Linked DNA regions of Homo sapiens. The protein of the gene in region 5 purifies or fractionates together with the protein of the main gene of each other region. This does not show direct contact. Each region holds a gene or a part of one and is shown on either strand. Other genes may lie near its edges. The genes, in order: CAPZA2, ARPC2, AMOT, FMNL2, CTTN, ARPC1B and ARPC4.

Region 1 (3,500 bases), on a different chromosome or scaffold from region 5:
GAATAAGCTTCATCAAAAAAAGGCATACGATTATGAAGAAAATAGTGACGGTCTTCTCAAGCAACAAAAGCAAAAACTGACACATGGGATATAATTAAAGAGCTTCTGCACAGCAAAGGATACTATCAACAGAGTAAACAGACAACCTACAGAATGGGAGACAAATTTTGCAAATTATGCCTCTGACAAAGGTTTAAATCCAGCATCTATAAAGAACTTAAATTTAAAAGATAAAAACAAGCGCATTAAAAAGTGGGCAAAGGATATGAACAGACACTTTTCCAAAGCAGACATACTTGAGGCCAAACAAGCATATGAGAAAAAAGATCACCATCACTGATAATTAGAAAAATGCAAATCAGAACCACAATGAGATACCATTTCAAACCAATCAGAATGGCTATTATTAGAAAGTCAAAAAATAACAGATGCTGGTGAGGTTACGGAGCAAAAGGAATGCTTATACACTGTTGGTGGGAGTGTATATTCAACTATTATAGAAGACAGTGTGGCGATTCCTCAGAGATCTAAAAACGGAATTACCATTTGACCCAGCAATCCCATTACTGGTTATATACCCAAAGGAACAGAAATCATTCTATTATAAAGAAACATGCTCACATATGTTCATTACAGCACTATTCACAATAGCAAAGACGTGGAATCAATCTAAATATCAGTGATGATAGACTAGGTGAAGAAAATGTGGCATATATACACCATAGAATACTATGCAGCCGTGAAAAAGAACAAGCTTTATGTCCTTTGCAAGAACATGGATGGAGCTGAAGGCCATTATTCTTAGCAGACTAATAAAATATCTTAGCAGAAAATCAAATATCACATGTTCTCACTTATTAGTGGGAGATAATGATGAGAACACATGACACATAGAGGGGAACAAAACACACTGGGACCTATCAGAGGATGAAGGGTGGGAGGAGGGAGAGGATCAGGAAAAATAACTAATGGGTACTAGGCTTAATACCTGGGTGATGAAATAATCTGTGCAACACCTGCATGACACAAGTTTACCTATATAATAAACCTGCACATGTACCCCTGAACTGTTAAGAAAGAAAATAGTGATACTCTTCTTGAAACACATAAAACAGGATCTGACCAATGGAAAGGTGCTCTACATTCCATTCTTAGATAGAAAATTAAATTATTTTAAAAGTAATGTATGGATTTGATGAAATTTGAATTAGAATCCTGATCAGTTTTTTTTTAATTGGTCAATATTTTCATAAAGTTTATGTGGAAAAAAAAACATGCTTGAAATAACGAAGAAATGTGTGTGTGTGTGTGTGTGTGTGTGTGTGTATGTGTGTATATATATATATGTATATATTTATGAAAAAACCATTAAGCACAATGAGGGAGAATTGCCTTACCAGATAGTACAAGTTGTTTTACAGCCAATGTTAAGTCAATGTGGTGGTGTATGGAGTAGACAAAAAATCATTAGAGCAGCATGGAGAACCAGAATTTAGTCTCAGAATATATGAAAAATTTTATACAGATATTGGCATAACTGGTTTCTATAAGAAGAAAATTAAGTTGGACCTCTGTCACATACAGTATACAGAAATAGATTTCAGGTGGTTTTAAAATGTGAAAAGTGGCTAACATTTTAGAAGAAAATCTGAGTCTACATGTGCAATACAGGGCTAGGGAGACCATCTTAAATAACACTGGATACCCAGGAAGTATAAAAGATGGACATTTTACTATAAATGTTTTTAACTGTAGAATGAAGCCTATCTTAAAGAACTCTTATAAATTGATAAGAAAAAGACACCAGATAAAAATATTTTATTATATTTGCTCACAGAAGAGCAAATGACCCACAAATGTGAAAAGCCATACTTAGTTTTATCAGTAGTCAGTGGAATTAAAATGATATATTTTCTACCATCAGACTAAAAAAAGAGCTATAGTGCCTATCATTGGTGGTAATATGGATGGAAACATACTCTCATATATGTGTAGAAATTTGGATTGTCACAGGAGTATATATTAAAAATTATAATACCTGATGTCCCTACCACCACTGCTTGGGAATTTATTCAATAGAAATAAAAGGATCCAATGGAAATAAAAACATCAGTATGTTAAAATATATGTACAGCAATACTCATTTCACCTTTTTTGTTGTTGTTATTGAGTCAGGGTCCTGCTCTGTCACCCAGGCTGGAGTGCAGTGACACAATCACAGCTCGCTGCAGCCTCAATCTCCTGGGCTGAGTAGCTGGGACTACAGGCACATGCCACCACGACTGACTAATTTTAAAAAATTTTTTTGTAGAGATGAGGTCTTACTATGTTGCCCGGGCTGGTCTCAACCTCCTGAGCTGAAGCTATCCTGCCCCCTTGGCCTCCCAAAGCACTAGGATTACAGGCATGAGCTACCACACCCAGTCTTATTTCACCATTTTTAATGTGTTCCTCCTTTCCCCGAAAAAGGAAACAGCCCAGAAATAAAGAGATGGCACATCAGTAGTGGATTGGCAGACTAAATTATGTTATAATCACGTCATGGGACATTATGCAGCCATTTAAAAGAATGGTGAGAAATATATCACTTGACTTTGAGGGATTTCCATAGGATGTTTATATTGAAAGAAGCCAGATGCAGAGAAGAGTGTGTGTGTGTGTGTGTGTGTGTGTGTGTGTGTGTGTACGTACACACACACATTTTCATTGCATTCTTATAAAATAATGACCAGTCGCTTCTCGGCCTTTTGGCTAAGATCAAGTGTAGTAAAATAATGACCAAAAAATTCTGTGTGTATGCAAGTATAGACATGTGTATATCTTTATCTGTAAGATTTTATGACTATGAAAAAAAATTTAGAAAGGTATATCCTGTGTTGTTAGCATGATATATATCAGAGGGATGGATAAGTCCCGACATAGCTAAGGAGTCAAAGACTGGAAGAATTACAAGAGAAGGAAAAGGGGAAATTTTTTAAATAAAGCACAAAATATCAGATTATACATTATGCATTGTGGATGTATTATTTAAATTTATGGAAATGAAGTATGTTTTTAAATACTTGGAAGTCAATTAAAATCAGTTGTCAATGTAGTTTTTAAGAAGCAAGAAACAGATACGTCAAAGTAGGTAAGACTGTGGGCCCAGAGGCAAGGTGGGGGACACACCAAAGAGGATTTGCACCAGACCAAAGCCATTCAGGTAACCACCCTGATTGGAGGTTCTCACAAGTTCTGTAGTTTTGAGGAACTGGAGTCTGATACCAGACATTGTAAACTGTTAGAGTTCTCAAAGCAGAAAACCCACCAAACCCACTTGAACAGTGTTTTTAGAGGTTGCATTTTTTTTCACCAGTAGCTGGAAGTTATATTGGGAGAAAATCTGATCTGCACTGGATGAGAGTAATGTCATTGTCTGTATAGTCAACTCATTTGAAGTATTAATAGTTGTACCATATGGTTAAAATATATGCTTGGAGTAGGATTGTTTTATAGTTTTA
Region 2 (3,500 bases), on a different chromosome or scaffold from region 5:
AGGCTGAGGCAGGAGAATTGCTTGAACCCAGGAGGTGGAGGTTACAGCGAGCTGATATTGCACCACTGCACAACAGAGCGAGACTCCAGCTCCAAAAAAAAAAAACAAAAACAAAAAAAATTGCCTGACTTGTTAATTTCCTCATCTGTTAAAAAAAAAAAAAAATTGGTGGTGGGGGGCAGGTAGGGTGGTCTGGGCACAGTGGCTCAAGCCTGTATTCCCAGCACTTTGGGAGGCCAAGGTGGGTGGATCACCTGAGGTCAGGAGTTCGAGACCTGCCTGGCCAATATGGCAAAACCCCGTCTCTAATAAAAATACAAAATTAGCTGGGTGTGGTGGTACACGCCTGTGGTCCCAGGTACTCCGGAGGCTGAGGCAGGAGAATTGCTTGAACCCGGGAGGTGGAGGTTGTAATGAGCTGAGATCGCGCCACGGCACTCCAGCCTGAGCAACAAGAGTGAAATTCTGTCTCAAAAAAAAAGAAAAAAAGAAAAAGGAGCAGGGCAGGGGGTGCGGAGATAGGGGAGAATGTTGTGAGCATTAAAAGAATGTTCAATACTTAAAGTGTGTGGAACATGACAGGTCATCAATACGGGTGCAGAACATGGACTGAAACCATTGGATGACCTGCCTTTTTACAGCATGTCCACTATGAATTCCCAGAAGCCGGCTGGAACACTTGATTATAGAATCAAATGATTAATAAGTGTCAAACTGCCTAGAGATGTTTTTGCAAGAATATTTCTACATCACTGAGGATCATTTTATATTCTAGGCAACTGACGGGAATAACTTCACCAGAACTGTATGGCTTTCACACTTCTAAGTATCTGAAACCTCATTACTATTTCATTTTTTCCCAAAAGCATTCCTGAGATCTGTATTTTTTTTTTTTTGAGATGGAGTTTTACTCTTATTGCCCAGGCTGGAGTGCAATGGCATGATCTCGGCTCACCACAACATCCGCCTCCCAGGTTCAAGCGATTCTCCTGCCTCAGCCTCCTAGGCAGCTGGGATTACAGGCATGCGCCACCAGGCCTGGCTAATTTTGTACTTTTAGTAGAGACGGGGTTTCTCCATGTTGGTCATGCTGGTCTTGAACTCCTGAATGCAGGTGATCCGCCCGCCCTGGCCTCCGATAGTGCTGGGATTACAGGCATAAGCCACCGCGCCCGGCTGAGGTCTGTGTTTTTTGTTGAGCATGGGCTCTTCGGGAGGATGGGCTAAATCTTTGCTCTAGATAATGCTTAGCACATTTTATTTAATACTGGAGAGGCACTCCAGTATTAAATAATATCAATCATCATTCTATTTTGGGTACTTGAAAACCAAATAAGCACACAGATTACAAGGTTAGATTAAAAAAGAAAAGATTTAGAGCTGAGGTTTGCTAGTTTTAGGAAGCCAAATAAGAGCAAATAAAACTATAGCTAAGGTAAAGTCTGTCTTTAAGTAAGGCTTCTAACATGATGAACAGAATATACTGAGGATGAAGAGAAGTAAAAATCTAGTATAACTTGCTGAGTTTTCCAAACGTGCCTAGATAAACCCATTAAAAAAGAGGAGGAGAGACTCTACGGTCTTTTTTTTTTTTTTCTCGAGACTGAATCTTGCTCTGTCGCCTAGGCTAGAGGGCAGTGGCGCAATCTCAGCTCACTGCAACCTCTGCCTCCTGGGTTCAAGCGATTCTCGTGCTTCAGCCACCTGAGTACCTGGTATTACAGGTGGCTGCCACCATGCCTGGCTAATTTCTGTATTTTTTATAGAGACAGGTATCTCATTATGCTGCCCAGGCTGGTCCTGAACTTCTGAGCTCAAGCAATTCACTCACCTTGGCCTCCCCAAAGTGCTGGGATTACAGGTGTGAGCCACTGCACCTGGTTGAGACACTACTTTCACACACTTTTACATTTCACACTTCTATGAAGACAGGGTCTGCAATCTGGCAATGTCTATGATTTAGTGGGAGGTAGAAGGAGGCCCAGGGACAGAAACATAAACTTTCCATGTCAGGATGTTGGCTGTGACAAGCATGCCCAAGACTTTGGACATGATTTTTCTGTTCTAGATCTGTTTGTTTCTTTCTTTTAATACCTTGATTTTGCCAAAAGCCTACAGTGTTATCTTGGCTTTTATTTCTGTGACACATTCATCCCGCCAATTTGGAGATTAAAAAAAAAAAAGGTGCTGGGTATGGTGGCTCATGCCTGTGATCCCAACTCTCTGGGAGGCGGAGGCTGAGGTGGGTAGATTGCTCAAGGCTAGGAGTTTGAGACCTCCTTACTCTGTTTTGGCAGTATGGGCAGCAGACAGTGAGACTCTGTTTCTACAAAATATTAAAAAAATTAATTGGGTATGGTGGCATGTGCCTGTAGTTCCCAGCTACCGGAGAGGCTAAAGCGGGAGGATTGCTTGAGCCCAAGATTTGGAGGAGGCTGCAGTGAGCTATGACTGTACCACTGCATTCCAGCCTGGGCAACAGAATGAGACTGTCTGAAAAAATAGGTGAGGTGATGAAATAAGCTAGCACAAGTAACTGCTGTTAAGAGTGACAGAGAACTTCCTTCTTAGAAGACTTTTCTAATCAAGGTACCAAAGTTGTAATAGTTGAGTAAAAAATATTATGTTCCAATGGTCTTACTACCTGGTTCTCACTTTGGGGTCCTGCTAAATGCCTCAGAATTTGAGACATGCCACTGAATCACAGGGTAAAAAGGCTGTTCAGTTTTTCCACTTTAAACCTCCTTTTTAAAGCAGTATAACATAGCTGTTCTATTCAAGGATGACACGGTGCCTTTCAATTCCTCTGGCCATGAATGTTGAGACAACCTATTAGAAGACTGGATTAAGAAAGGGTCTGATTTTTATTACTTGAAATCACAAGAATAGTGTGGTGAATATTCCTCTTCTTTCTCCAAATATGTAGTATGCAGAATTACTAAGGGCCGAGGGTGGGAATCAATGTTTGCTCATTCTTTTCAAAGCCATTTTAATCACCATGAACAAACAAATGTGGCCCTCTGGCTGAAAGATTAAGTAAGAGTCATGTGGCCCCATCAAGTAAATGTTAAAAATGTCACACATCAATTTTGTACCTCTACTGTGTTCCATATTGGACAAAGCAAAGCCCCTTAAAAGCTATTTTTATGGACGGAGTTGAAATTAGGAATGGGCTCATGCAGAAATATTTGTAATAATATTTAAACGAAATCCTTTGGGTAAAAAAAGCATAATATAAAAAGGACACCTCTCTTCCCATGTCATTCCATAGTTGCTCACATGACTACATACCTGATTCTGGATTTACCAAGAAACTCCCGTACACCCTCTTTAATAACTAGAAAATAAAAACAAAACAAAACCAAATACGTTAATCCAAAGGCCATGATAATTTCATTATTTTTAAAGTACTGCACTTGCCAAGCTCTTCCTAAGTTGGCATTCTTCCTAACTTTCATTTGGTGGATGGGAAAGTAGAGACAGAGGGGAAGTGGATTTAG
Region 3 (3,500 bases), on a different chromosome or scaffold from region 5:
GGAGGATAAAAAATATGTATCTTCCTGTAAAATACATGCAGCTAAATTTCTCCGGTGGTTTAATCAGGATGGGAAGAAAAGGAAAAAAAAAGAAAACCTCTTTGGGCTCCTCATTATTTATTTAGGCAGATCAAAGGGCAGATAATTTTCCATCTAGCTTCAAACACTGTGGGAGTCATTTCAGATCACAAACAATACTGGTGAATGAGTTCTGAAAATAGCTTTCCTGGGAAGGCGGGCTGTGTGCTGAGTGGGGCTGTGGCTTCTGCTCCACACCCCAGCCAACACACTCCCCTCCCACAAGGCAACAGACATCAGCCCATCAACAGACTCTTCCATACTGATGGGAAAAGCAAAATAAAAACCCCCAGCTTCATTGATATTTTGCTGGCTTGAATGGGTTTCCACTAAGTGAGGCAGTCTTGAACAGACCAACCCCTCCCTGGGTCTTCTGTTTCATTGGTCAGATGGGAATCTGGTTCTTGATCTCTTTTAAACCTGAGTAGCCTTGTTGGTTACCCCATTTCCTGTTCCAAGACACTGATCAGAACATAGGCTCCTGCCCTTTGAAAGCTGCACAGAGGAGGTTGAAAAGGGTTAGGAAATCAACCTGGGTTAAGAGGGAAAAAAAAAAAAAAATCCTAAACTGGCAAAGTTAGAGGTGGAGTCCAAAGTGAATTGCCTCTGGCTACAAAAACAGGACCTGCAGGGGAAAAAAAAGAAATACCAGGAAATGCTAGGTGCCTTCTCTCACTTTCACCCTACTCCACCCCATGACTGCCTTCTCTCCTGAGTCACTCAATGAACTTCAAGCCAGAAGGTTTTTTCCAAAATGAGCAAGTAGGGTACAGGAGACAAAGAGGTAGACATCAAAGGACATCACAGACCTAGTCTGTGAGCCGCATATAAATGAAGGCCAGCCTAGGACCAAGCACTTCAAACCTGATGGTCACCCATCATTACTCATGGCCATGAGGCAGGATACCACACTTAAATGCCACCATCGGTCCCCATGGTTTAAACCTTTTCTCCTGCCCTATATGTGGAAATACTACTGATCAGAGACATGGCCCAAATACTAACAACAGGAACAATGAACAGAATCATAGAATCATAAGGTCTAGTGAATATAGCAGTGGGACAATGGACCTCTGAATAATTAAGAAGTATATATAGGAACAACTAAATATATAAGACAGAAATGGTAATATTTTTCCTTCTGTATTTTAGCATCTGACCAAAATTTCTATATGATGTGATGGGAATTTAACTCAGAGGTTTAAAAATGTGACAGGCAACTAATAAATTCTCTACAAAAAAAAGATACAACAGTCCAGATTTCATAAACTGCAAGCATAAGGCAAGTAACATTCTGAACCTACATACATACATAGCTCCCCCACCATAACATCTGGGTGTTTGTTTAGTCCAAAAGAATAATGGTAATTCTATGGAAAAATGGTAACTGACAAGAAATACACAGATTTGTTTGCAAAAATAAATGATGAAAGCTTCATGGAGGGGAATATGTGCAAGTGATAGGATGTTCCAGACTAATTAAAGTGCAAGGTAATTTGCTTCTACCTCTCAAGGAGGGCTTATGAGAAACACAGACCCCTTCAACATCCTAGGAGAGAGGACAGCAAATAGCTGCTGAAAACAAGACTTTTGCTCCTGTTCGTCCACTAGGCAGTTGAGGCCATGCTCAACCTACAAAGCTAAGGGATTGTTAATACAGTGCTAATTATGGCTAAAGAGGATACAAATTCGGGTTGGCAGGCAATTCACGAAGCCAGAGGCCTGTCATGCATTGCAGAGTTTGTTATATCAAACACCTGCCCGTTCCTTCCCTAAGATTCCCAACACACAGCAGAAGCTGGTTGGGGATGAGGTCAGGAAATGACAGAAACAGAACTCTCTTACCTGGCTGCTCCATACTCAGGGGGATGCTGATACCTCATCAGTTGCCCCTCTGTTCTCCCTGGCTGGTTCAGGCGATGCTCACTATAGAAGTGCCCTGGCTCTTGGGGCTTGCACACTACAGATTGGGGTGGCATGCCCTTGAAGGGATATTCTGGTGGGGGGCCTCGGTGTTCCATGCCCTTCAGGCTATGCTGGTTAGGAAGTGGCCCTTGGGCCTTGTAGAATTCACTGGAACTTGTGGGATTCTTGTAGAGGTCATTGGGTTGTGGTGGGGAGAGGGGAGCACTGGTAACAGGTGGATGGGCCTTAACTCCACTGGTGGCCAGTGACATCTGCATTAGTCGTTCACTCAAGGAACGGACATGCCCTTGCTTAAGGTCTCTGAGTCCCTCATCTTGGTGCATCTTTCCAGGATTGAGCCGCTGAACTGATGGGCGTCCCTCAGTCCTCATCTTCTGGTTGGTGACTCCAGTGACATAGAAGGCAGCTCCAACACTGGCATGCTGTTGGCCCCGAAAGTACTGGGACTGGACCTTGGCTTCTTCATAGGTCGGGAGTTCTTCATTATTTTGCATTCGAGGAGACAGCTGCTTCTCCATGATGAGGTTTTCTGACTGGATTTCCTGCCCCTGGGGTTCTTGTCGAGCAGCATGAGCCACAAGCTGTTGGTGGTGGTCTTGGGGACTCAACACATCACTCTGAGGGCCCGGGTTCCCACTGCCACTGGGGAAAGGAGGGCCATTCCCTGTGGCTTGCTGGTGTATGGCAAGCAGGCTGCGATTCTCACTAGGATTGCCATAGCGAAGCTGCTCTTGTAGCAAACGCTGCAATACCGTGGTCCCTCCACTTGGCTGTTCTTCAGAATTTCTCATCTCTATTGCTGGTGGTGCCTTGTGAAGAGAGAGAGAAATTGGGCACCTGGGCTGCCCTTGACCTGGGAAGGGGAAACAGGAAGCTTAACACCCAGTTGATGGATAAATCAGTCCTCTAAAGGGAAAGAAAATGGATATTGGAGGGTGAGGATTCGATTGCAGAAACAAAGTAGAGAATTGACTCTAAAATTAATAGATTGTTGGGGATTCCAGGCCCTAGCACTGATATGATGAAGAACATGGAGGCATAAGAGCTCTAGGTTTTCTCTTTCACTTTTAGCATGAGTTAAATATTCAATCTGGACTTAACTCCTAAGAATGCTTGAGAAACCTGGAACAGTCAACTAGGGTAATCAAAGGGGGTAACTTTTCAAGGTCCATATTCACAGGCTTCATCTCTCTGTATTCTATTTAAAGCAAAAACCCAAATCTTATGGCTGTGGAGGTGGGGGCAGGACAGTGGGGAAAGTTACCCCATAACAGGATTTGTAAAGCAGCTCAGCATATGAAGGCAGCTACAAAATGCAAAATAAAGACTCAAATAAATAAAAGGTGAAGAGAGCTTGGCTTGCACCAGACAGTAATGATCCCTGCCTCGATGCAAATCTTTTTCTCTGATCTCATAAGGCTCTGAAACATCTTTTTAAAAAATCATTTTCATAGTCTCCATTTTGGATGCTCCTTGGCTTAATAAGAGAAGGACTT
Region 4 (3,500 bases), on a different chromosome or scaffold from region 5:
TACCCAAGACGAACGGTAATAGCTGAAATCAAGTACCTGCAGCAGCTTTTTCCACATAATGAAGCTCATTATAAAACAGGGACACTTGGTGATATTTTTCTTTCACCACATTGGATATATAGTGCAACAGTGTTTGCTTTCTGTCTGTTGACTTTGTATCTAAGAGCTGAAAACAAAAGGGAACGTGGGTTAGGTACAAGAGTAAAGGGTAACAAGACACTTACCCCTCAGGTGACGATTTCCCACCCAGAGTCATTAACTGAGTAACAGTCGCCCAACAGGCTGGAGCATTCCCAGAGGAGGGTCAGGATTCCATTTGTTCCTTAGTGAACCAGTCCATTGATGCTTAACTGGCTCAAGGACTTTCCAACCAGGGCACATGCTTAACTATAGGGATGACTCTAAGCACCTAAGAATGATTCGCAGCTTTCCTCTACAGTAGTTCCTATTTACCCACAGGTTTACTTCCCATGGTTTCAGGAAACCCACAGGTTTCAGGTATCCAAAAATACTAAGTGGAAAATTCCAGAAATAAACAATTCATCAGATTTGAATTGCGCACCACTCTGAGCAGCATGATAAAACCTCGCACGTGCCATTCCCATCCACCCTAGACCGAGAATCACCCCTTTGTCAAGTGGATCCACGCTGTAATCATTACCTGCCATTAATCACTTAGTAGCCATCTGGGTTATCAGGTTAACTGCCGCCTATTGCAGTGTTTGTGTTCAAGTAACGTGTTTTATTTAACTGCTCTATTTTTTTTTTTTTTTTTTTTTTTGAGATGGAGTCTCGTTCTGTCGCCCAGGGTGGAGTGCAGTGGCACAATCTTGGCTCACTACAAACTCCACCTCCTGCGTTCAAGCGATTCTCCTGCCTCAGCCTCCCGAGTAGCTGGGATTACAGGTGCCTGTGACCCAAAAATTAGCCCAGCTAATTTTCCTATTTTTAGTAGAGACAGGGTTTCGCCATGTTGGCCAGGCTGCTCTCAAACTCCTGACCTCAGGTGATCCTCCCGCCTCAGCCTCCCAAAGTGCTGGGATTACAGGTGTGAGCCACCAGGCCTGGCCTATTTTATTTTTTAGTTATTGTGAATCTCTCACTGTGCCTAATTTATAAATTCAACTTTATAACAGATATGCATCTCTAGAAAAAAAACAGTGTATATATAGGATTCAGTACTATCTGAGGTTTCAGGCATCCACTGGGGGTCTTGGATCACAGCCCCCATGGATAAGGGGGACACTGATTACATGAACTCTCCCAGCCCTGCATCTGCTATCCCACCTTCCTTGCCTTAAAAGCAGGACGGCTCTAATTTTAGTGCTCTTCAAAGTAAAAAGCCAGAGGAGAAATGGGGATGTACAGCCAGCAGGTGCATGCAGGTGCCTCCTACACAGCAGGGCTCCTATGCTCCAGTTTTTACATTTAGCTTAGGCCCTCCCTTATTTCCTAGCCTGTGAAGACCTGAAACAGACATGCTTAACTGATCATGATCTGCTGGAGGCCAGAACTGTGACTGACTAGACACTCCATATTAAATAACTAGCTCCCTGGTCGGGGGACTCAACCCACTGCCCAGCCTTCTCATGTGACAATCACGTTAGGCCTGCACAGTCTGGAGGGAGTCCACGGAGGATTTTCTCTAGTCTTATTCACATTAGTTAGGTGACTCTGAAAATTAGAGCACCCTGCATGCAACAACAACAACAAAAATTTAAGAAAATATAGAAAAGTACTTACAAAAAGCAGTTTGAAAAAATTTCCTGATTCCATCCAACCTCTGCTAATATTTTAACCTATTTCCATTCAGTCTTTCTCCCCACATAGTTTACTTAGCTGAGATTCAACTGTACATGCAAAGCATACCCTGCTTTCTTTTCTAAACACAAATCTTTCTTGGGACACTCTTCATCAGTATGCTAACGGTGGAAGAATAATAGTTCACTGTATTAACTAGTGTTACAGCACATTTAATCATTCCCACAGTTAGACCTTTAGATTGTTAATTTGCAATTATAAATAAAATACAGGATTCAAAATTCAGACACTTGAGAAAAAATTCCTAGAAATGGAAATACTGAGTCAAAGGGTATGAGTAATTATAGGTTCTATGTGCTCTCTGTCAAATGGTGTTCCAGAAAATTAGTACCAGTTGATCCTCCCATAGCAGAAAATATTCATCAAAACATCCTCCACCACCCTAACTTCATCTCTGCCAGCCATCTGTCCTTCAAACAGCTCTCAAATTTCTTTTAGTCCACTCACCAGATCTAAACTCTGAAGTTTAAATCCATAAACTGCTCCTCTTTTACTGCTATTCATGTAGTTTCCAAGGGCTAAGATGATCTGCAAAAGAAGGTGAAAACAGAAGCCCATCAGTACAGCACATCAGGCACTGAACGCAGCTGAAGTAGTCCTTCATACCTACAAGAAAAACTGCACTTGCCTCCAGAATTTTCTTGAGTTTTTGGGACGACTTTATAGAGACAGATGCTGCTATAATCGCATGTAGTTGCTAGATTCCAATCAAAGAAAGAAAAAGGGGAAAAAAGACATGTTAAAAATGGGAAACTAATTGGCAAGTAAATATTAAGACAGAAGAAAACAGGCCTGCATTTAGAGCATACAGGCTTCATGGTGAGAGTCTACTTTTTCTAAGTATAACAAATTTAATTGTCTTGCTAGGTCTCAGGTAATATTGTTACATGCACGATCTTTACTGAAACTGTTCACAATAGCAAGTAACATAGGAACTTGCTTATCACAAAATCTGTAACCAATCTACAACCACTAAGACTCAGAGTTAAGAGTCCACAGCTGCTTCTGGTAGAACTCAATTTCCTGCCTACCACCTCTAATCATGTCATACAATTAATATTTTTAAATCAATGAAGGAGGCATCAAAAATGAAAAAAAAGGGAGGGGAATATAACACCCTCCAGAAGTTCTCAGAACATGTTTTCAACAGACATACTACTATAAGCAGAAACCAACAAATTTATCTAGAAACAGAATTGGGAAAGAACTGACTACTATAATCAGTAACAAAGTCTATTTAGAAACAGAATTGGGAGAGAACTGAAGTTTATGATATTCATAAATCTCCACCAGATTAACACAAGGGAATGAGAGATGGTTGGCTATTATGTCTATATCACCACAGTTTATTATAACAAACTTCCAAGAAAGAAAACTCTTATGGTAAATATAAAGCTTTCAGCAAAAGCTTGTAAGTCTGCTCACTAAAGATGAGGCAACATTTTTAGAAATGAAAGTCTTATTTTCAGTCTTGCCAACACTGCCAGAAGACTAGTATCTTCAGAGAGGAACCAAGTTTGAGAAAAGAACCAAGTTTCTTTGTCCCCTGTCCTTTTGAAATCTAGAGAACATCTGTAGACACAAAAAATGGCATTCTTTCGGAAGAATGGCAATATGGAATATGAACATTCCCCATTTTTCAAATTTACTTTGCATACATAATGTGGAAAAGATGGTTG
Region 5 (3,500 bases):
ACCTATGAGGTGTGCTACAGGAATTCAGATACAATAAGTTGCATATAAAACCCGACCTCATTGCTCATTGTGGTAAAGCAAGGATGATGAGAAAATGCACCTCAGGAGCAAAAACACGCTTCACGGGCACTCCGGGACCCAAGTCCCGAGACATTTCCACGTGACCTTCTGGAAAGACACACCGCCCACCTGACTGCACGACGGGACTGGTCCAGCCTCCCGGCTCCTCAGGAAGGAGATGAGTTTCCTACAAAGTGAGTGGCCACAAATGCCAGGACAGCGGTGTCCTGGAGCTGTGGGGGGACCTTGGGGAAGAACACACACTCATCTGCACTTCACACTTCTAGCCTTCAACTGATCAAACTACTGAAATTGAACATGATATTTTGGCAAAAATACTACACCCCCATTGACAGGAGGAGGGTTCCTGGCGGCTCACAGCAGAGCAGGCACTGCCTTCCTTCCCAAGGCCGAGAGGCCATGCTGTGACATGGCACACACACCGCCCCAGGCTGCCCGGTGGCCCAGGGACCATATGGGTGACAGTTAAGACATCAGCCTTTGTGAAAAGCCAAGCCCGACGCAGACCTCAACTGCACTGTGCGTCCCAATCCAGAGACCCGCGGGGCAGGGGAGGATTTCAAGGACTCAGTGACACTGCCCGGCGGGGACAGGAGAGGCTCCCAGCAGCCCTCCCGGTGACCTGGGCATCAGGGGATGGGTAGAGATGAGGACAAGCCGGAGTGGGCACAGGAAAAAAACCAGGGTCTCTGCTAGAAGTCACCTGATCCTGCGGGCTGTCACGGTATGACATAGGCAGATTTCCCATCTGACATGGCAGCTCCTGTGCTCTGGGTGACTTAGCTCCGGGTTAACTTCCATCAGGCCCAGTCCTCTCCTCCCCAGCAGTGAGACTCTAGAGGAAGCCCCTCGTCTGGGACAGTCCTTCCTGCCTACCCGCCACAGGGCCGACCTGAGGCCTCGTGCTTGTCCTGGGAGGTCCCGACTGCACTTGATGGGCACGAGGGCAACACGAACACAAGAGAATGCGAGCTCCCTGAAGCTGCCGCGTGACAGTCAATTTGGCAAAAAAGAAAAAAAAAACCATCAATGCATAAAACCAATTACCAAAGTCCTCCTAAGGAATGTGATTACAATATATTAGCAAATTCTGTGGCATAAACATTTTCAAAAGCATCAGCAAAAGTATTAAATATAAAAGCAATGTGTATATTCCCCTCCCCACCTTCAAAAAAAAAAAAAAAAAAAAAAAAACAGAAAAAACCCAAAACCACCCAAGAACCAAAGAAGGCCTGATCTGTAGTGTGAGGATCCAGGGCGCAGCTCCGGGGGGGGGCTGGGGGCCCTACTGCCGCAGCTCCACATAGTTGGCTGGGAAGAGCCCGTACCGGCCCTTGCACACCCCGCGCCACCAGCCGTCGTCAATCATCTCGATGTTGGTGATGATGTCATCAGGGTCAAATGAGATCTCATCATCGCCCGCTGGGGAAGAGAACACAGAGAAAGATGCTGAAGTGCAAGCGTTTCCTGGTCTGCCAGAAAAAAAGCACAACCCAGAGCAAGCTCCCAGGCAGCCTGCTCAGAGATGCCCCCTGCAGAGATGCGGACCACCGCGGAGGCTCCTGCTGCCTCTCCCATGCCACCAAGGCCAGGATTTGTGAACATGAACCGAGAGAGTACAAAGAGGCACAGAGCCCTTCACACAAGCACCAACCCCACCCGGACCCCTTCCTCAGGAGCAGGTTTCCACCACATAACTCCAGCCCCGCCTGCCCTCCCTTCCCCTCTCTCTGGCAGACGTGTCTGTGGAGGGGGTGGGGAGATGGGCTGCGGAGGCCGCAGTGGAAGGACAGCCAGGGGACACCCGGAGAGAAGCCCGAGGTGATGGCTGAAATGGGAATGGAGGGCAAAAGCCACGGTGATGAGAATCCACGCACAGGTGCCGAGATGCCACAGACACACCCACATGCGTGTACGCAAATGCACGTGTGCAAAAGGCACTGAACGGGGACGGCCAGCGCTCACTTATGGTAGAATGCCAGCTTCCGCGCTGATGGAAAGTTGCAAACGGGAAGCACTCAAGAGGCAGAGGCCGGGGGTTCTGAGGGGAATCCCACGCCACCCGTAAGATGCTTGTCAACTGCAGAGGGGTGGTGGTGACTTTGTGGACCAGGTGGTGGCTGAGACAGAGGGACAAGTGGATGCTATGCGGCCCAGCAGAGAGCCCCACCGCATGGTCTCCAAGACCTCACCGCCACCAGAGCACAGCTCAGCCTGGCCCTGAGGGAACACGGGGCGGGCGGCTGAGGCCAGCCCAGGAGCTGAGGCTGCTCTTAAACTGCCAAGGCCGCAAAGGGAACTCAGGGGAACGTGCAGGCCACACGGGAGCTGGCGGCCGGGGCAGGACAGGCAGGAATGGGGTCTCGAACATCAAGGCATCTGTGCGGCCCCCTCACCTGGAGGGTGGGGTGTCCCTGTGGGACAGCATCTTTGATCTTGGGAAACACGCTGGAGTCTTTGGGGGTGGCAGCACCCCTGCAGCTCTCCAAGGGTTCAGAGAATACTAAAGATAACAGGGGGTGTGTGCGTGTGTGTGCAGAGATGGAATCCGGGTAGGGAACATGGGAGTTCTTGGCACTATACCTGCAACTTTTCTATATCTCTGAAATTATCTCAACATAAATTACTTCTAAAACTAACAACGCTAGAGAAGTGAATTCTCAGAAAACAAGCAGAGGCAGGCGCAGCTGCCTGGGTCTCCCCTCCAAGTGCTTTTGCAGGCCGCTCACCAGCCTGGTAGTCGTACAGGGCGACGGCTGTGATCCCCAGATCGTTCTCGTACTCATCGTAGGTGCTGTCCTCTAAAAGAAAGCCATGACAGAGCTGAACAATACAAAGTCCCACACAGGTTCCCAGCCTTCTCAAGTTTTAGACGACACTTCCTAAGATTTTGTCTCAAGGACACAGGGCGGCAGCTGAAACCCTCCCTTCCTCTGCCCCTGCCCACCCGTCCCCAGCACAATGGGGATCTTCCTGGGACCCAGCACAGGAGCCGATGCCCCAAATGTGCCTAGAGCACTTCCCTCCAGGGACAAGAAGACCCTATAGCAAGCAAGCAAAGGCGTGTCAGTGGGAAACCCACGCTCCTCGCAACGACGCCACAGGTCGAGCAGGATGTCCCGGGAGCTCCCTGCCCTGGGCAGGGCGCTGCAGCGTGGGGCCCCAGTACCTGCGGGATAGTGGCCCGGGGCCTCTGCGCTTTCATAGACAGCCTCTGTGGCATAGGCCAGGCCCTGCTGGCTGCTGGCCTCTCGGTAGTCAGCGGCCTCCATGCTGTACACGGGCTCCGGCTCCGTCCCACTCACAGGGCCTCTGTAGCTCAGCTCTGCCTTGAAGGAAGCCGCATCCTGGGGAAGGGTCACACGCACATGGCACGGGGCCCATGCTGGCTTCTAGAGAGCAGTAGCTGTACTGCCACA
Region 6 (3,500 bases), on a different chromosome or scaffold from region 5:
GATCACACGAGAGCCGCTGCCCACAGCAAACTTGTTCTCGTTGGGGGCCCAGCGCACGCAGCGGGCAGCCCGGTTGATCCGCAGGATGACCAGCGTGGGCTTCCATGTGCGGCCCTTCAGCGTCCACACGTAGGCGTTGCGGTCTGTGCCGCAGGTCACAATACGGTTACTCTCGGGGGCCCAGTCGATGCCTGTGGGGGGATGGAGGGAACACAGGAGGCTGATGACACTCAGGCAGAGGTGGCTGTATGGTGGCCACATGGGAGAGGCTGAAAGGCCACCATCCAGGTGGAAGCTGTATCTGCCCAGCAGGCACTTTTTTTTTTTTTTGAAACAGAGTCTCGCTCTGTCACCCAGGCTGGAGTGCAGTGGCATGATCTCAGCTCACTGCAGCCTCTGCCTCCCAGGTTCAAGCAATCCTCGTGCCTCAGCCTCCTGAGTAGCCGGGACTACAGGTGTGTACCACCAATCTTTTTTTTTTTTTTTTTTTTTTGAGACAGAGTCTCGCTCAGCCGCCCAAGCTGGAGTGCACTGGCACGATCTCAGCTCACTGGAACCACCATCTTCCGGGTTCAAGCAATTCTCACATATCAGCCTCCCAAGTAGCTGGGATTACAGGCACCCGCCATCATGCCTGGCTAATTTTTGTATTTTAGTAGAGATGAGGTTTCACCATGTTGACCAGGCTGGTCTTGAACTCCTGACCTCAGGTGATCCGCCCGCCTCCGCCTCCCAAAGTGCTGGGAGTACAGGCGCAAGCCACCGCACCCGGCCTCTTTCTTTCTTTGTTTTTATTGCGACACAGTCTCGCTCTGCCATCCAGGCTGGAGTGCAGTGGTGCAATCTCAGCTCACTTCAACCTCCGCCTCCTGGGTTCAAGCGATTCTTCTGCCTCAGCCTCCAGAGTATCTGGGACTACAGGTGCGTGCCACCACACCCGGCTAATTTCTGTATTTTTCAACATTTAGTCATGTTGGCCAGGATGGTCTCGAACTCCTGACCTCAAGCGATCCACTCGCCTTGGCCTCCTGAAGTGCTGGGATTACAGGCATGAGCCACTGCACCCGGCCCAGCAAGCACTTTTTACTGAGATCCAGTGCTTATTTAGAGTGACACCAGGGGGCACTCCTAGAGCTTATGAGGGAGTGTCAGAGCCCTCCATGCTATCAGCAAACATGCTGGAGGGCAAAGCCAAGAGGCAGAAAAGATGGGTTCTTGGTCATGTGGAGCTGCTGGATCAAGCCTCTCCTGAAGCCCTCAACCCTGTGAGTTTTTGGTAACATGAGCCAACACAGTCCCCTTAAAATTGAAGCCAGTTTGAATCCGGGTTTCACGGTGAGTGGGCAGATGCTCCACAATGAGTGGCCATGCCCTGCCTTGCACCACCCCCCCAACCCACCACCTCCTTTCAGGACGGTGGTCCCAGCCACCCTGACATACCTGTCACCTGCCCGTTGTGCTCCTTGAGCTCGTGCACCTTGGTCCATTTGGCACCGCTCTTTTCATAGATATGCACCTCATGGTTGTTGGGGCAGATGGCAATCTCTGAAGGGGAGATGGAGGGAGATTGAGGGGCCCTCTCCATGACTGCCCTCTGCCAGGACACACTACACAGTGCACCTAGGCAACAACACCTCACCTTTCATGACTCAGTCTCTCCTCTTCTGCCTTGCAGGGGCCCCCTGAAGTCCTTCAGGCCCTGCTAGGCCACCCTGTCTTCTCCTGGAACTGGCTGTCCTTTACTCGCAGCAATGAACCCTGGGACCTCTCCCCACCCTATTGCTCTGGCCAACCAGGAACCCTTCGCTGCTCCTGCTGACACCTCAGGGCCCCTGCACCTGCCAGCCCCTCCCCAGCTGGGGCACAGTTCCCTTCCTCTCCCCCTCTGGGTCTCTGGGTAAATGTCAAAATGTCATCTCCTCCGAAAGGCTTTTTCTTGGTCACTTTTTCTTTCTTTCTTTCTCTCTTTTTTTTTTTTTGAGACAGAGTCTCGCTTTGTTGCCCAGGCTGGAGTGCAGTGGTGCAATCTCGACTCACTGCAACCTCCGCCTCCTGGGTTCAAGCAATTCTCGTGCCTCAGCCCCCCGAGTAGCTGGGATTACAGACACCCACCACCACGCCCAGGTAATTTTTGTATTTTTAGTAGAGACAGGGTTTCACCATGTTGCCCAAGCTGGTCTGGAACTCCTGACCTCAAGTGATCCACCCACCTCAGCCTCCCAAAGTGCCGGGATTACAGGCATGAGCTACCGCAACTGGCCCATTCCCTCCTTAAACTTTAACCCAGGAGGCCCCTGGTCAGCTGGAAGACCCAGGGGTGAGGCCAGGGGACAGCCACATGGAGCCCATGGTCCGGGGGCCTGGCTGCTCCAGAGTCCCCATGTGTGCTCTGGCTGGTCCCCATCCCAGGAGGTGGAAGCAGCCACCCACCGGCCCCCAGCAAGCACTCACGGGTGCGGTCCTTGTTCCAGGCGTGGCAGCTGATGGGCTCCACCAGGAAGCTGTGGTAGGCCATGGCGGCTTGGCTCCTGTGCCCGAGAGAGGAAGAGAGAATCCACGTCAGCCCCAACCTTGCCCCTGACTTCACCCATACCAGGCCCCAGATGATCCTCACAGGCCTCACACCAGGGAGGCCCCTCAGTTTAGAGGGGCAGCAGTTTGCAGAGAGGAGCAGCAGGGGCCAGCCCTGGCTCCCAACTGGCCTGACATGTTGCTTCCCCTCCTGGGGCCTCAGTTTCCCTCCTTATAAAAGGGCAGCTTTCACAGGATGTCTCTGAGGCTCCAGGGACAGGGTGGAGGAGACGGTACTACAGGGGAGATGCTCCCTGGGGCGGGGTGGGGTGCTAGGACTCCAAGCTGGACAGGCCCCTCACTTGTCATCTGTGCCTCGGTTTCCTCATAGGATGGACGACCCCCCCCCCCCCACCCAACTTCCCCTGCCCCATTAAGGATGGGATGAAGATGAAGTCATCCAGGCCAGGCCCGGTGGCTCATGCCTGTAATCCCAACACTTTGGGAGATCGAGGCAGGCGGATCACTTGCGGCCAGGAGTTCAAGACCAGCCTGGCCAACATGGTGAAACTCCGTCTTTACTAAAACTACAAAAAATTAGTCGGGTGTGGTGGCGGGCACCTGTAGTCCCAGCCTGAGGCAGGAGAATGGCGTGAACTTGGGAGGCGGGGCTTGCAGTAAGCCGAGATCGCACCACTGCACTCCAGCCTGGGCGACAGAGTGAGACTCCGTCTCAAAAAAAAAAAAAAAAAAAAAAAAAAAAATTAGCCAGGTGTGGTGGCACCTGCCTGTAATCCCCACTACTCAGGAGGCTGGGTGACAGAGCAAGACTCATCTCAGAAAAAAAAAAAAAAAAAAGAAATGAAGTAATCTCATAAACCACCTAGAAAGGTGTCCAGCACATGGCAGTTGGCCCTGCCGTGCCCAGAGCCCTGGTCTTCCCCCACACTGCTCAGACGGGGAGAAGGGAGGTGGCCGGTCTGCAGGGG
Region 7 (2,260 bases), on a different chromosome or scaffold from region 5:
CCCTCAGCCAGTAAGAGGAGGAACCAGAATGTGGAGCTGGGTTTTCGGACTCAGAGGTCTAAGAAAGTACCATAGCCTTTGTCAAGGGTCACAAATTCAGGTGCATCCAAAGGTCGGGTAGCTATGGAGTGGGCTGAGTATGGAGTGGGCAGGGTGAGGAGCTGCTGAGCGCATGCCTCATGTGCAGGGGCTGGCTCCCACACAGCTCCAGGCCATTGAACCCCCAAATTTGGATTTGTATATGGCATCTTCCATGTTTTCAAGGTTGGCAACTAATTCATATTGTTTTAAACACCATGTGGGCCATGCAGTGCTCATCTTTGGGCTAGTTTCAGGCATGGGCCATTGGTTCACAACCTTTGGTCTCTAAAATGTGCAGGGCTGTCCTAGGCAGCATGGGGGACCCTTGAGGGCAGAAAACATTTCAAGGGCCTGGCTTGGTTGGAGGTTCATCCAGAGCTTGACACAAAAGTACCAGAACCTGGGTCCTTTTCCACTTGGCCCTCTGAGTCCCCAGGCCCCTTGCATGAGAGCCCCCATGCCTAAAGAAAGCAACCTCAGTTCACCAGGCAGGACGCTGGCAGGGCTTTCTAGCAGCCTCCATGCCAGGGCACAAGGGAGCTGTGGAGAAGCTCTCATGGCTCTTAATTTTTCTGCCTTATCTAGTGCTAGGCTTAGGGCCGGTGCCCATAGGTCACTTCTGAAAGCTGGCTGAATTAGAGCATGACCACAAGGTGTCCTGGGACCCAACTCTGCCCCTCACAGATATGAGCACAGTGGCAGCTCTCAGGTTCATGCACCTCCTTAGAGCAGTGCCACCAGGATGCAATAATAACCACCATGCACTGCCTCTTGGTTCTCTTGACAGTTTTAAACCATCTGGCTGGATCTCGTGGCCTTCCCCCTCAGACTACCCATGTCTCCACGAAGGCGTCCTGGAGTCACTCCCCGAGCAGCGCGGCGGCGGCAGGGAGTTGGGTTGGGGTGGGCATTTGATGCGGGAGGTGGGTGGTGTGCTTGCTAGCTGGGCAAGAAAGCAGCAGTGGACCTGCCCCAAGGCCACACGTGCCTGGTCAGGCTGGCTTCTGATGTTCAGTCCCCTGGGCCGGGACAGATTTTTTTTAACGTCTTGAAACTTAAACTCTGTGCTTGTAGGATACTGTAACCTTTTTGTCTTTTTTTTTTTTTTTTTTTTTAAACCTCCACCTCCAGTGGCTGTGACTGGTCCCAGTGATTATACGTTATTGGTTGCTGTGGGTCTGGGCGGGCCTGGAGCCAGAAGGCGACTTATTTTTTCTCTCCTATGCCACCCCAGGTGGGGAGGGAGGGAGGTTTCAGACTCCAGTTTCTCCCTTGCCCTTTTATTCCCAAGCCTCCTTGGCCCCAGTATAAGTGTTGGGAACTCTCTGCCAGCTTCCTGAGTTCTGCCTAAAGATGGCCCCCCAGCACTGGTTGGGGACAAGGGCCAAATTGGTGACCACCAGTCATGCCTAGGACCTGGGGCCCAAAAGCCGGGCAACCTCTGGCTACAGGGGCCATTGGGTGCCCTCCCAGTTGAGAGGGGCCGCTGTTTCGCCTTGTCCGTCAGTGCCAGTGCCTGTGCCAGAGGTGGCGAGGTGAGTCCTCCAGAGCTTCCTGGCCGGGCCCTCCTCCTGCCTGTTCTGGCTCCTCTGCTCCCACGCTAGCTGTCCCTTTTCTGATTCTGGTGGATCCTCCCTCCCCTAATTAAAGTCTCTTTTTGCCCCTTTGGGGCTGCATGAGGTCTATGCTGTGTGTGTGTGTGAAAGGAGGGGAGGTGGGGCTTCTTTTCCCTGAGACCAGATGGCTGGTAATTGTGCCTGGAGCTCCCCACTGGGTGCAGTCTCATGATTGGTCCTGCCATTATTCCTGCCAGGGGTCCCAACCCAGAGACTCCATTCATTGCAGTCCAGGCACCATTAATTTCTGAAACTGCTCTGTCTGCCTATACAGAGCTTTGGTGCTTTTCACATAAGGAACTTACTTGGGCTAAAAAGTAACCTCAGAGAAACAGTGCTCCCATTTGGTGGATAAGGAAACTGAGGTTCCAAACATGAGATGTAATAGCTTGCCCCAAATCTAGCCAGTGAGCAAGAGAGTAGACTTTTGCCTGTGCCAAAACAGTAATCACCATCCACAAGTGGCTATTTAAATTTTAATTATTACAATTAAATAAAGTTTAAAATCCAGTTCCCCAGTCCCACTGGCAACTTAACAGCTACCAGTGACTGTACCATATATA

What was found.
Region 1: the proteins of CTTN (region 5) and CAPZA2 purify together in Homo sapiens (affinity purification with mass spectrometry; 2 studies listed by BioGRID and IntAct, with this or other methods). This does not show direct contact.
Region 2: the proteins of CTTN (region 5) and ARPC2 purify together in Homo sapiens (affinity purification with mass spectrometry; 2 studies listed by BioGRID and IntAct, with this or other methods). This does not show direct contact.
Region 3: the proteins of CTTN (region 5) and AMOT purify together in Homo sapiens (affinity purification with mass spectrometry; 2 studies listed by BioGRID and IntAct, with this or other methods). This does not show direct contact.
Region 4: the proteins of CTTN (region 5) and FMNL2 purify together in Homo sapiens (affinity purification with western blotting, with the first as the bait; one study listed by BioGRID). This does not show direct contact.
Region 6: the proteins of CTTN (region 5) and ARPC1B purify together in Homo sapiens (affinity purification with mass spectrometry; one large-scale study listed by BioGRID and IntAct). This does not show direct contact.
Region 7: the proteins of CTTN (region 5) and ARPC4 purify together in Homo sapiens (affinity purification with mass spectrometry; 2 studies listed by BioGRID and IntAct, with this or other methods). This does not show direct contact.

The regions. Positions count from the first base shown.
Region 1 is NC_000007.14:116,900,587-116,904,086, forward strand, and holds part of CAPZA2 (F-actin-capping protein subunit alpha-2), read left to right. Parts: intron 1-2,731; exon of another isoform or gene 2,732-2,857; intron 2,858-3,500. UniProt on the Homo sapiens protein: F-actin-capping proteins bind in a Ca(2+)-independent manner to the fast growing ends of actin filaments (barbed end) thereby blocking the exchange of subunits at these ends.
Region 2 is NC_000002.12:218,234,189-218,237,688, reverse strand, and holds part of ARPC2 (actin-related protein 2/3 complex subunit 2), read right to left. Parts: intron 3,338-3,500; coding exon 3,292-3,337; intron 1-3,291. UniProt on the Homo sapiens protein: Actin-binding component of the Arp2/3 complex, a multiprotein complex that mediates actin polymerization upon stimulation by nucleation-promoting factor (NPF).
Region 3 is NC_000023.11:112,820,332-112,823,831, forward strand, and holds part of AMOT (angiomotin), read right to left. Parts: intron 2,858-3,500; 5' UTR 2,796-2,857; coding exon 1,924-2,795; intron 1-1,923.
Region 4 is NC_000002.12:152,628,674-152,632,173, reverse strand, and holds part of FMNL2 (formin-like protein 2), read right to left. Parts: intron 2,519-3,500; coding exon 2,450-2,518; intron 2,350-2,449; coding exon 2,269-2,349; intron 167-2,268; coding exon 37-166; intron 1-36. UniProt on the Homo sapiens protein: Plays a role in the regulation of cell morphology and cytoskeletal organization. Required in the cortical actin filament dynamics.
Region 5 is NC_000011.10:70,433,029-70,436,528, reverse strand, and holds part of CTTN (src substrate cortactin), read right to left. Parts: intron 3,429-3,500; coding exon 3,251-3,428; intron 2,883-3,250; coding exon 2,811-2,882; intron 1,504-2,810; coding exon 1,367-1,503; 3' UTR 1,064-1,366; coding exon of another isoform or gene 785-1,063; 3' UTR 248-784; coding exon of another isoform or gene 121-247; 3' UTR 1-120.
Region 6 is NC_000007.14:99,384,730-99,388,229, reverse strand, and holds part of ARPC1B (actin-related protein 2/3 complex subunit 1B), read right to left. Parts: intron 2,529-3,500; 5' UTR 2,516-2,528; coding exon 2,452-2,515; intron 1,546-2,451; coding exon 1,441-1,545; intron 192-1,440; coding exon 1-191. UniProt on the Homo sapiens protein: Component of the Arp2/3 complex, a multiprotein complex that mediates actin polymerization upon stimulation by nucleation-promoting factor (NPF).
Region 7 is NC_000003.12:9,805,342-9,807,601, forward strand, and holds the end of ARPC4 (actin-related protein 2/3 complex subunit 4), read left to right. Parts: intron 1-868; coding exon 869-874; 3' UTR 875-1,760; downstream 1,761-2,260. UniProt on the Homo sapiens protein: Actin-binding component of the Arp2/3 complex, a multiprotein complex that mediates actin polymerization upon stimulation by nucleation-promoting factor (NPF).